2 separate regions of the Homo sapiens genome follow, and region 2 is linked to region 1. Evidence: fine-mapped expression QTL. A gene starts in region 1. The other region holds a variant in brackets. All regions are shown on one strand. Distances are between the middles of the regions.

What was found.
Region 2: its variant is fine-mapped to the expression of ATP6V0A4 in nasal epithelium (TOPMed, PIP 0.91).

The regions. Positions count from the first base shown.
Region 1 is chr7:138,795,176-138,800,548 of GRCh38, forward strand. It overlaps ATP6V0A4 (ATPase H+ transporting V0 subunit a4), which reads right to left and starts at 3,021. Exons shown (of 22, transcript NM_020632.3): 1 at 2,859-3,021. It overlaps TMEM213 (transmembrane protein 213), which reads left to right and starts at 2,819. Exons shown (of 3, transcript NM_001085429.2): 1 at 2,819-3,011. The coding sequence starts at 2,930. RefSeq lists a silencer at 2,789-3,083.
Region 2 is chr7:138,771,615-138,776,987 of GRCh38, forward strand. The region is part of intron 2 of ATP6V0A4 (ATPase H+ transporting V0 subunit a4); the gene reads right to left. Among named protein-coding and RNA genes, the nearest start is that of TMEM213, 24 kb to the right of the region's middle. RefSeq lists enhancers at 1,838-2,341, 2,342-2,844. The variant C/G (reference allele first, on the strand shown) is at 2,398.

The DNA of each region.
Region 1 (5,373 bases):
ACAGGCCTGAGCCACCGTGCCTGGCCCAGCCTATACTATTTTCGAATAACAAAGTTCTTCCATCTGTAGATAGGAGAATGTTTGTCCTACAAACAGCTCATCTAAAACAGTCCGACATCACATAACAATGATAAAATAGGGAGGGAGGGCCAACACATTATCCCCCTCCTCCACATCCACTGCTTGCCAGAAAAGCTTTCCCTGATACGACTTGATAGGATGGTCTCAGCTTAGGCTGCAGATGCTGTTCAATCCACCACTACAATAACCCCAGGCAGGCCATCTTACATGTTTGCATACCTCAGGTTCCGATTCCATAGGAGGGACAGGCTCTGCTCACGTCAAACACATTAAAATGCACCCAGCGTCCCACATTAAATCGTTTCCGTTTAAACATTTCAAGTGAACTGTATAACTTTGCTTTTGAAACAATCATTTATTTTGCCCAGTTTTTGATTGTTCAAATTTTTGTTTGTTTGTTTGGGGACAGGGTCTCACTGTGTCACCCAGGCTGGAGTGCAGTGGTGCCATCTCAGCTCACTGCAGCCTCAACCTCCTGGGCTCAAGTGATCCTCCCACCTCAGCCTCCTGAGTAGCTGAGACTACAGGTGCACACTACCATACCCAAGTAATTTTTTTGTGTTTTTTTTTGTTTGTTTTGCGGAGGCAGGGTCTTACTATGTTGTGCAGGCTGGTCTTGAACTCCCTGGCTCAAGTGATCTTCCCACCTCGGCCTCCCAAAGTGTTGGGATGACAGGCGTGTGCCAATATGCCTGGTCTGTTCTTCAAATTTTGGATCTGAGAATATTTTCTCAGGTCTCAAACATTTTTGAGATCCTTGGAAATCTTGGGGATTCCACGTACCGCTGTTATCCCTAGTACCCATTGGATAAATCAGTCCTGCCCTGTGAAGCCCACTGCAGGGTTTACTTGTGAGGAAAACATCGAGGACAGCATTTGTTCTACTAAGCAGCGTCCTCTCTGTGGGGACCTTGAGTTCCTTGAGCACAAGGGCTGTGTGGTCTTTCTCACCCCCAGGTCCCCACACCGAGAGCCTGGCCTGGCATGCAACTGTTTAATGTTCAACTAGTGGTAATGCCTAAACTGGACTTCTGTGCACTGACTGAAAATCACCCTTCCTAGGGCACGTTGGCCCTATCCCCAAATCCAGGAACATAGGCCACCACTATTTTATATCTTAGAGCCAATTAGAAAAAAGTGCCTCCCCTGGGCTGTTACACTCCACTAGGAAATCTTTCCTTGGGGCTTACTCACGCCTTCTATGTCTTTCCACAGAGCTGGAGTCCACCCCTCACCCTTACCAGGCCCATTCATGCGCAGGAACACTTCCACACATGGCAGGCTGTGTGCACACAGACGATTCCCTCGCCTTTATAGGTGCTATTCCTTTGACTTGAAAAGCCCATCAACTCTAATCTGCACATACAAACTTCAGCACCCAGCCCAAATGTCACTTTCTCTGTGAATCCTTCCCCTATACCTCTCAGGCAGAGTTCATCCCATCCTCCTTTTTATTCCCATCACAGTGGAAGGTACCCCTATTTGAGTCTTGCCAGGTTGCATCAAATTTCTTTCTTCCGGGTTTGGTTCCCTGCTGCACTGTGCTCTCAAGGGGAAGAGGCGTGTCTCAGTCATCTCAGTCTCCAGTGCCTAGGATGAGACCTTTTATATACATGTGGGTCTTCAATAAATGTTTTAGACGGAATGCAGAGCTCTAGTCAAGTTACTCCTCAGCTCAAAATCTCTACAGAACCTTCCCCTTTGCTTCCTGACTTTGTTTCAAATTCCTCTACCAGGCACGCAGAAGCTTAGCCCACAGCTCTCCTCTTGCCTCCCCACCTCACATGCCTTGGCTCACCTGCGCTTCTGGGTGCTGCTGGTACAGCCACCCTCTGACACTTCCTTACCTCTGGACCTTTGCTCATCTGTCCCTCTACCTATAATGCCATCTTCCCCTCTCCCCCTGTCAAAATTCTAGCCATCCTTCAAGGCCCAGGCCAAATGCCATTTTCTTTTTTTTTTTTTTTTTTTTTTTGGAGATGGAGTCTCCCTCTGTCGGCCAAGCTGGAATGCAGGGTCAGGAGCATCTCAGCTTACTGCAACCTCTGTCTTCCGGGTTCAAGCGATTTTCCTGCCTCAGCTTCCCAAGTGGCTGGGACTACAGGCATGCACCACCACACCTGGCTAATTTTTGTATTTTTATTAGAGATGGGGTTTCACCATTTTGGCCAGGCTGGTCTTGAACTCCTGACTTCAAGTGATCCACCTGCCTCAGCCTCCCAGAGTGCTGGGACTACAGGGTGAGCCCCCATGCCCAACCTCAAATGCCATTTTCTTCTTGAAGCATCCCATCAGCAGATGTGGCCTCCACTGTTGAAACCCACAGTGCTTTATCCTCCCAAGCCATTCCTCAAACACGGTTCTGGGGTTGAATGATGCGTGTTTGTAATTAACGCACTTCGACAGCAGGTATCTCCCAACTTCAGCATAGTGGGTGCTCAGTGAATATTGGCCCAAATGGAATTGAGCATCCATGCTACACCTGCAGATGGGAGAGGCAGCAAACTCATGTCCCAGGAACCAGCATGACACAGATCTCTCTTGTCCTCCCCTTGTTTCTCAATAAGGACAATATTTGCGCTCAGGGGAGAAGGGCACAGCTTGCCCCTCCCTTCCTTCCTCAGCCAACGGTTTGGCTTCCCTTCTAGAGAGGTGAGAGAAGGTGTGACAGGCCAAGTTTCCTTTGCTCCACCCCATGGTGTTTCCCCCAAACACCCAGCATAAGTTCACCTCTGGCAGAGTTGCTTTCCAGCTCCTGCAGGTGGGAGTCGACTCACCTGCAGCAGGCACTCGGCACAACTCCGCAGGACCGGCTCACCTGCACCGGGCACTCAGCACAGCCTCCAGCATGCAGCGCCTCCCCGCTGCCACCCGGGCCACCCTGATCCTCAGCCTGGCCTTTGCCTCCCTCCACTCGGCTTGCTCGGCAGGTAGCGTTATGAGCTTTATTCATGGCCAGGCTGGGAAGGGGGAGGGAAGGAGGGAAGAGAGGTGGGAGGGAAAGAAGGAGGAGGGGGAAGATTCTTTGGCCAGGGTTGGTCCTGCGCAAAGGAAGGAGGAAACAGAACTTTCTCATCTGAAGGATTAGGCAGGGGGTGGGAGGTGGGGCTGGGGCAGGGGGGGTCTTAGGTTGGCCTGAGACGGAGATCAGATACTCAATTCCTCAGCTAAGGCAGGAGCAGCCACCTCTCTTGGCCTTTGCCACAAAGAAAGGAAAAAGTTATTTGCTGGAGTCTCACCCATCAGGGGACCAAAATGATATCTCTTGGTCCGCTGTGTCCTGAAGGCTCCTTCTCAGCCCCACTGGGCTGTCGTGCTTTGCAATCCTCCCTGTGCACATTTGTGTCTGACCTTCCCTTTCCTAAGTCCTCCATCCCTCCCTGCCCCTTGTACTTTCTCTGCGACTTTCACAAAACCTGACTGCCAGGAGGGCTGCCATTCACTGTCTCCCACCCTCCTGCCTCCCCGGGCACTGGAAATGCTGGGTTATCTCCCCATTTTCCTGTGGAGGCTGGAAGGCTGATCTACATCCCCTGCCTTGCCCTGCCAGGCCGGGTTCTGCAACTCACGGCAGAGGGACCTTGGTTACCATCTTCTGCTCCTGGCTTTGATCTTGTTCTCAGCCACCTCAGAACACCACCACACTCTCTATGCCCTGCAACACTCCTGCTCCCAAAACCAACCCTGCCCCCAAAGTCCTGTGTCTGCCCCTCTCATCCTCAGACTCTCTTCTGTAGCCACTGCCAGGGGTGTTGGTGTTGAGGTTCAAGACGTGCACTCTTGAGCCGCTGAGCCTGAACCCAGGTCCAGCTTCCATGACTCACTAGCTATGCGACCTCGAGCAAATGACTTTACCTCTCTATGCCAAGTTTCCTCCTTTATCTCATGGGGACAATCATAGTGCTTGTCAAGACGAATTGATGTAATTTCATGTAAAGAACTTAGAAATAGCCCATAGAACACACACAGTGAATGTCAGCAATTATGGTAAGCACATTCATTTTATTTTCCAACTTCACCCCTCCCCAAATAAGAGTGCTGAGTTTCTTTCTACTTACCCCGACAGTGCCTTGCTTATGATGGGAGCTCAGAATCAGAAGACAAGTTTAACTGCACTGAATCGTTGGGTCTTCCCAGCAGCTTTTCTTGTGGAATAGCCCCAAGTAGGGCCAGTCCCTCCCTCGCTTCTGGCTCTGCTTATAAGGGAGGAGGGCGATGTTTAAATTCTTAGGAATTTTCACCGGGGCTATTCCATTTGAACCACAGAAAATTGCTGATATTGAACAATTTTCACCTATAACAATGGCAATTTCATAAGCTCGAACCTAACCCTAGCATTCAGCCAACTAGGGTTTTTTTCCACTCACTTTGGAAGAGGACAACTTCCATTCTAGGTGTAGAGGTGAAATGAAAGTCAGGGCCAAGGAAGTTATTTGAGTCATAAGGAAAATTAGAATAGTGAGGAATCAGTTTCTCCAAAACAAATAAAGACCAGGCTCTAAGCCATTTAGCTGTAAATAATTTACAGTAACAGATTGCATCGAGGCAATTACTATACTTTAAGCAGGACATTGGAGTGGCTTGGGGGTTGGGTGGCATAAAATTAGTCTCAGCAGCAACTTCATGGCTTTAGCTAAACAGCAGGTTTCTTCTGAACTCGTCCTGCTGTGACAACAAGCTCCCTTGAAGGACACACTGACCCACAGCCAGGGGAACCTTGAGAGTTTCCATGCCCACCACTTTTTTTTTTTTCCTTTTTGCATTCCCCAAGAAGCAGAACGAACAGCAATATAATTTCTAGGAAGGTTCTTCCAATCCATCTCTTGGTTTCCATCTACCTAGGTCAGCATGAGCACTGTCTAATAATAGAACTTGCACTGAGGGTGGAAATGTCCCATGTCTGAGTGGTGCTTCCAATATGGTAGCCACTAGTCACACGCGGCAATGGAACCCTTGGCATGGGTCTAATGTAAACAAGAAGCTGAGTTTTTTTTACTGAATTTGATTTTAATAAATTTAAACAACCACAGGTGGCTAGTGGCTGCCGTATTGAACAGTATGGACTTAGAGGTCATCTCTCTTCTTATTGTCAGTTATGGACAGGAACCTGGATGCCTCAGATCCCTAACCCAATCCCACACCTCAAGACAACAGGACTTTAACAATTCATGCTAAAGTCCTTTTTATCTTTCCACTCCTTGCTCATGAATCAATCTATGTGCTGCGTATTCTGGCAGTCTCTGGGCTTGCTTCTATGATGTTTAATTTTTTTTGACAGCCATCATTCTGGAG
Region 2 (5,373 bases), 24 kb before region 1:
GCAAAATATTATACTTTATTTTTGAGACAGAGTCTTGCTCTGTCACCCAGGCTGGAGTGCAGTGGCACAAACATGACTCACTGCAGCCTCAACCTCCTGGGCTCAAGAGATCCTCCTGCCTCAGCCTCCTATGTAGCTGGGACTGCAGGTGTGCACCACCACACCCAGCTAGTTGTTTTATTTTTTTGTTGAGACAGAGTCTTGCTGTGTTGCCCAGGCTGGTATTGAACTCCTGGACTGAAGTGATCCTCCCACTCTGGTCTCTCAAAGTGCTGGGATTACAGGCATGAGCCACTGCTCTCAGCTGGCAAAATATTTTAAAATATGACTAAAGACTCAAGTTGTGGAGGGTATGAGAAAACAGGCCCTTTCATGCACTCGAATGTCACTCTAGAACTCAGTTGTGGGTATCACAACCAACTCTGGATTCCAGAATACTTTGTCTTCAATTTCCCTAGTCAGGAAAAATAGTTTTTGTCATCAGAATGAGATTTGGTAATCCATATGCCCATTGGGTATATCCAACGTTAACGTGTAAATTCTTTGTAGCTTTTTCAGAGAGCAATTTATCAATGTCTATCAAATCTTATATCCCTCATACCCACAAATCAAGATGTCCACTGCTATTTATCCAGATAGACCTGGATATGTATGGAGAAACAGATGAACAAGAATGTTTCTTATAATATTGTATGTAATAATTATAGTAAATGGCTGTAACCTAGATATCCATCATTAGGGGAATGATTAAATAAACTGTGATATAACAGAGCCCTGTGCAGTCAGCAGGAATAAAATAAATCTGTATGTCCTGTATATGGAAGAAGGATGCCCACGGGTGAGTGGGGCAGGGGAATGGTGCGAGTTAGGTTAGCCAAAACTGACCTGCAAGACACAGTTCCACCATACAGTCATAAGTGTGTATTGACACTGCTGATTAAAGAAAGACTAAGACTCACACTCCTGAAAGGGGAATCTCAAACATCTAGACTGAAATAGATTAAAACATCCACCATACTGTAACAGATGCATGTCCAAAGTTTAACTGTGAAACTGGGGGATGATCTTGAAGCCATTGCCACCAGCCCGCACACAGCATACGTAGCCAGGGAACGGAGCCCTGGTCATCAGAGGCCTCCCAGCAGCGATCAATGCATTCCAAACTCTGGGGTGGGGCAGTTTGTCACTCCTGAACATTTCTCCATTCCTTAATAGACCATCCAAGTCATGCTGCCCATTGGACTGCCTTTAGTGTCACTTAGAACAGGTGGCAGGGAAGGACACCTCCCAGGGGTTGGAAGAAAGTGAAGCTCTTTCCAATGGTGAAGTTGAAGGCCACATGAGAGCCAAGGGGAGGAGGAGGGCACAGAAGCTATTCCCAAAGATCCTCCCGACGGCCCTACTGCTGCCAAATCACACTTTTTCCCCCCAGGTCAACCTTCTGGAAGAATTTCCACACCTCCAGAGTAGATTTAATTTTATCACGTACAGAGTATCTACTGTGTGCTCGATACTGGGCCTACCCATTGTCCCAGTTTCACACAGGACCAACTCTAAAGTCCTCGAGCTGGCCAGCCGAAGGCTGCAGGACCTGGCCTCCTCTGTGTCCTCCTCCAGCTTTGGCCTCTCCAGGGACCCTGCATTTCTCCCAGCTCCCACCCCCTTCAGGCCCTTCGCCCAGGCTTTCCCCTGGGTTTGGAAACTCAATATCCTCCTCTCCACCGTCCATCCCACGCCCCGCATGACCCTGTCACTCCTCCAGTCTCCATGTAAGGATCTTCTTCCTCCACAAGCCTTCCCTGACACCTCCAGCTCCCTCAAGGAGCTAAGCCCCCTCCTACATGCCCCCAGAAGAGCAATCATTTGCAATCGCTTGTTTAACTGCCTGGATTCCCCACACACAAACCAGTGAAGTCCACGAGGCTAGAACCATTCCCTGTTTCCACTCCCACACCGGTCTAGGTCAACAGCACCACAAAGTGGGTACTCCAGAAGCAATACCCCATGTATAGACCAGAGGATAAACATCATCCCTCAGGAAGTGCACATGGTCTGGGCCCACATTTGTGCCTTTTGACACCAAGATGAATTCAAAGCTCTCCTACTGCCCTGTCTAGTAACTACAGCCAAGTGAACATAGACCAGAGACCCAAGGCATTCACTTTATGCAGATCAAAAGCACAGCATCAACACCCTTCTTACCCCAGCTTCCTCCAGGCGGGTCCTGGGTCAGGGTCTGGGGCAGACGGTGGTTTCCCCAACCTGACGCACGGAGCAGGGAGCCCCAGGTCTGGCAGCCCTCCGTGCTTGCTAGCAGTCCTGGGCGGAGCAGCAGCCAGTGAATCCGCAGGTGGCTTCCCCGCAGCGCCCCTCCCGGCTCCTTCTCCTCCCAGGCTC[C/G]CAAAGAGCCAGGAGGCAGCTCTGTTGTATCAACACTGGCCTGTTGTGGGTGAAGACAAACCTGCCCCACCGGCCAGCCTGCTCAGCCCCCGCCCCACCTGTGCCCTCTGCCATGACCTTAAGTTCCCAGCAGGAAGCATTCATTTATTTTCTAATGAAAGTAACTTGCCCCTCAGGGAGCTGAAGGTTGAGGACAAGATTCCTGGAGGCCTTAGAAGGACCCCAGTAAACCAAAACATCCCTTGAACTTGTAAAAACAAAATAACTTTGAAAAATAATTTTGGGGGCCGGGCGCCGTGGCTCACGCCGGTAATTCCAGCACTTTGGGAGGCTGAGGTGGGCGGATCATTTGAGGTCAGGAGTTTGAGACTAGCCTGGCCAACATGGTGAAATCCTGTCTCTACTAAAAATACGAAAAAATGAGCAGAGTGTGGTGGCGGGTGCCTGTAATCCCAGCTACTCAGGAGGCTGAGGCAGGAGAATCGCTTGAACCCAGGAAGCAGAGGTTGCAGTGAGCCTAGATCACGCCACTGCACTCCAGCCTGGGCAACAGAGCCAGACTCCATCTCAAAAATAAATAAATAAATATATATATCTATATATATAATATATTATATACATTATATATATTATATACATTATATATTATATATTATATACATTATATATAGTATATACACATATGTATATACGTGTGTATATATGTGTGTATATACATATATAAATGAAAAAATTAAAATAGTTTTGGAAAATAAAAAATATCACACTCACCATCCTATCAACTATTAACCAAAACACTCTACTTTCAAAGGAAAATAGAAGACTCCTTATGAAATGCCCAATGGCTGAAATTCAGCTTCCGCTGTGGCCCAGGTAAAAAGAGACAGAAGCATATGTGATATGTGCCCTTTTCCTTTGGAGGGGTCTTGTCTTTTCCTATTTCTTTGACAGAGGGTGCGAGGGGCAGAACAAGCCAATTAGGTGCATTTCTCTTGCCCAGGGGTGCGGGGCTGCAACAGCCACCTGCGTTTGTTTGAATGAGCTTTGCTTCTCCAGGGTGGTGCACAGATCCCCCACAGGGACTCTCCCCACCAGTGGCCTTAGAAGGTACCCCAGAATGAGTGAGGGGGGTGCTTTTTTTTAACTTTTCTGTACTTTTCTGCAAAAGTACAGCAAATAGTACAGGGAACCCCTACGTACACATTACTTGGCCACACCAGTTCATGAATGTTCTATCATCCACACCCCACCCACTTCCCCTCCCCACCTCTGATTATTTGGAAGCAAATCCCATACATCATATTATTTCTTTCAAAATATTCCAGCAGGTATCTCTAAAAGATAAGGATTCTTTTATACGCACATATACACACACAAACACACATAAAATACCAGTCACTCCTAAAATTCAATAATTCTTAAATTTGCCTTAATTCTAGGATTCAAGTTTCCTAGATTGTCTGTGATTTGCATTTTTTTTTAAGAGGCAGGGTCTTGCTCTGTTGTCCAGGCTGGAGTGTGGTGGCGCAAACACAGCTCACTGCAGCCTCAACCTCCTGGGCTCAAGTGATCCTCCCACCTCAGCCTCCTGAGTAGCTAGGACTACAGGTGTGCATCACTATGATTGGGCTGATTTTTTTTTTTTTTTTTTTTTTTTGAGACAGTCTCTCGCTCTGTCGCCCAGGCTGGAGTGCAGTGGCGCGATCTCGGCTCACTGCAAGCTCTGCCTCCTGGGTTCACGCCATTCTCCTGCCTCAGCCTCCCAAGTAGCTGGGACTATAGGCGCCCGCCACCACGCCCAGCTAATTTTTTGTATTTTTAGTAGAGACGGGGTTTCACCGGGTTAGCCAGGATGGTCTCGATCTCCTGACCTTGTGATCCACCTGCCTCAGCCTCCCAAAGTGCTGGGATTACAGGCGTGAGCCACCGTGCTCAGCCATTGGCTGATTTTTTTATTTTAATTTTTATAAAATATGACAACATAAAGACAGGGTATCACTATGTTGCCCAGGCTGGCCTCCAACTCCTAGCCTACAAGTAATCCTCCCACCTCTGCTTCCCAAAGTGCTGGGATTACAGGTATGAACCACCATGCCTGGCCAAGACTTGCATTTTTAATAAGCTCCTCAGGTGATACTTGTGCATGATCAAATTAGAACGATTGTTTAGAGAACACAGGGTGAGAAATCAAACTTTAGGCTGGGAAGCAGCAGGGAGGAGCTGTAGGCGGTTTGGGAAAATCAGCTAAGCTGAGGCAGCGATTGTGAACCTGGGGCAGTGGAGGCCCAGCCCTCTGAGAGAGCACCTGCTCTGTACCCTGGAGGAAAGGAGTTGCTTGCGTTTCTTGAGAGGCGGAGCTCAGCTGCACCCACCCATCCTGCCAGGGCAGATCTGTCCAAGAATCCAGACACCTGGATGAAGTTCCAAAGGCTGAACTCAAGATTTGCAAAGAAGAGCAGGAAGATAAGAACTGTGTTGATTCTACCTCTCCCTTCATATGAGCTCCAGAGGCACTAGGAGCCCTGGCCTCAATTCGTGCCTCCCTCCACTCTCCACTTCACCCTCCTACCTCTCATCTTGCTCTTCCCCAAGGCAGGTGTTTGCTTTGTCTCCCAGTCAGCGGGTGGGGCCATAGTTTTCAAACGTCTGGGTGCTCAGAAACCACTCAGGAACATGTGGAGAAAAGAGTACACGTACCTAATGGTTAAGAGCAGAGGCTCCAGCCCAACTACTGGAGTCAGGATCCCAGCTCTGCCATTTACCATGCGTGACCTTGGGAAAGCTATTTAACCTCAGGGCCTCAGTGACCTTATCTGAAAAACAGAAGAGGCTTACTTAGAAAGTGGAAGTATAGGCTGGACGCGGTGGCTCACGCCTGTAATCCCAGCAGTTTGGGAGCCTGAGGCAGGAGGATCACTTTGAGGCCAGGAGTTCGAGACCAGCCTGGCCAACATGGTGAAAACTCCCCTCTCCACT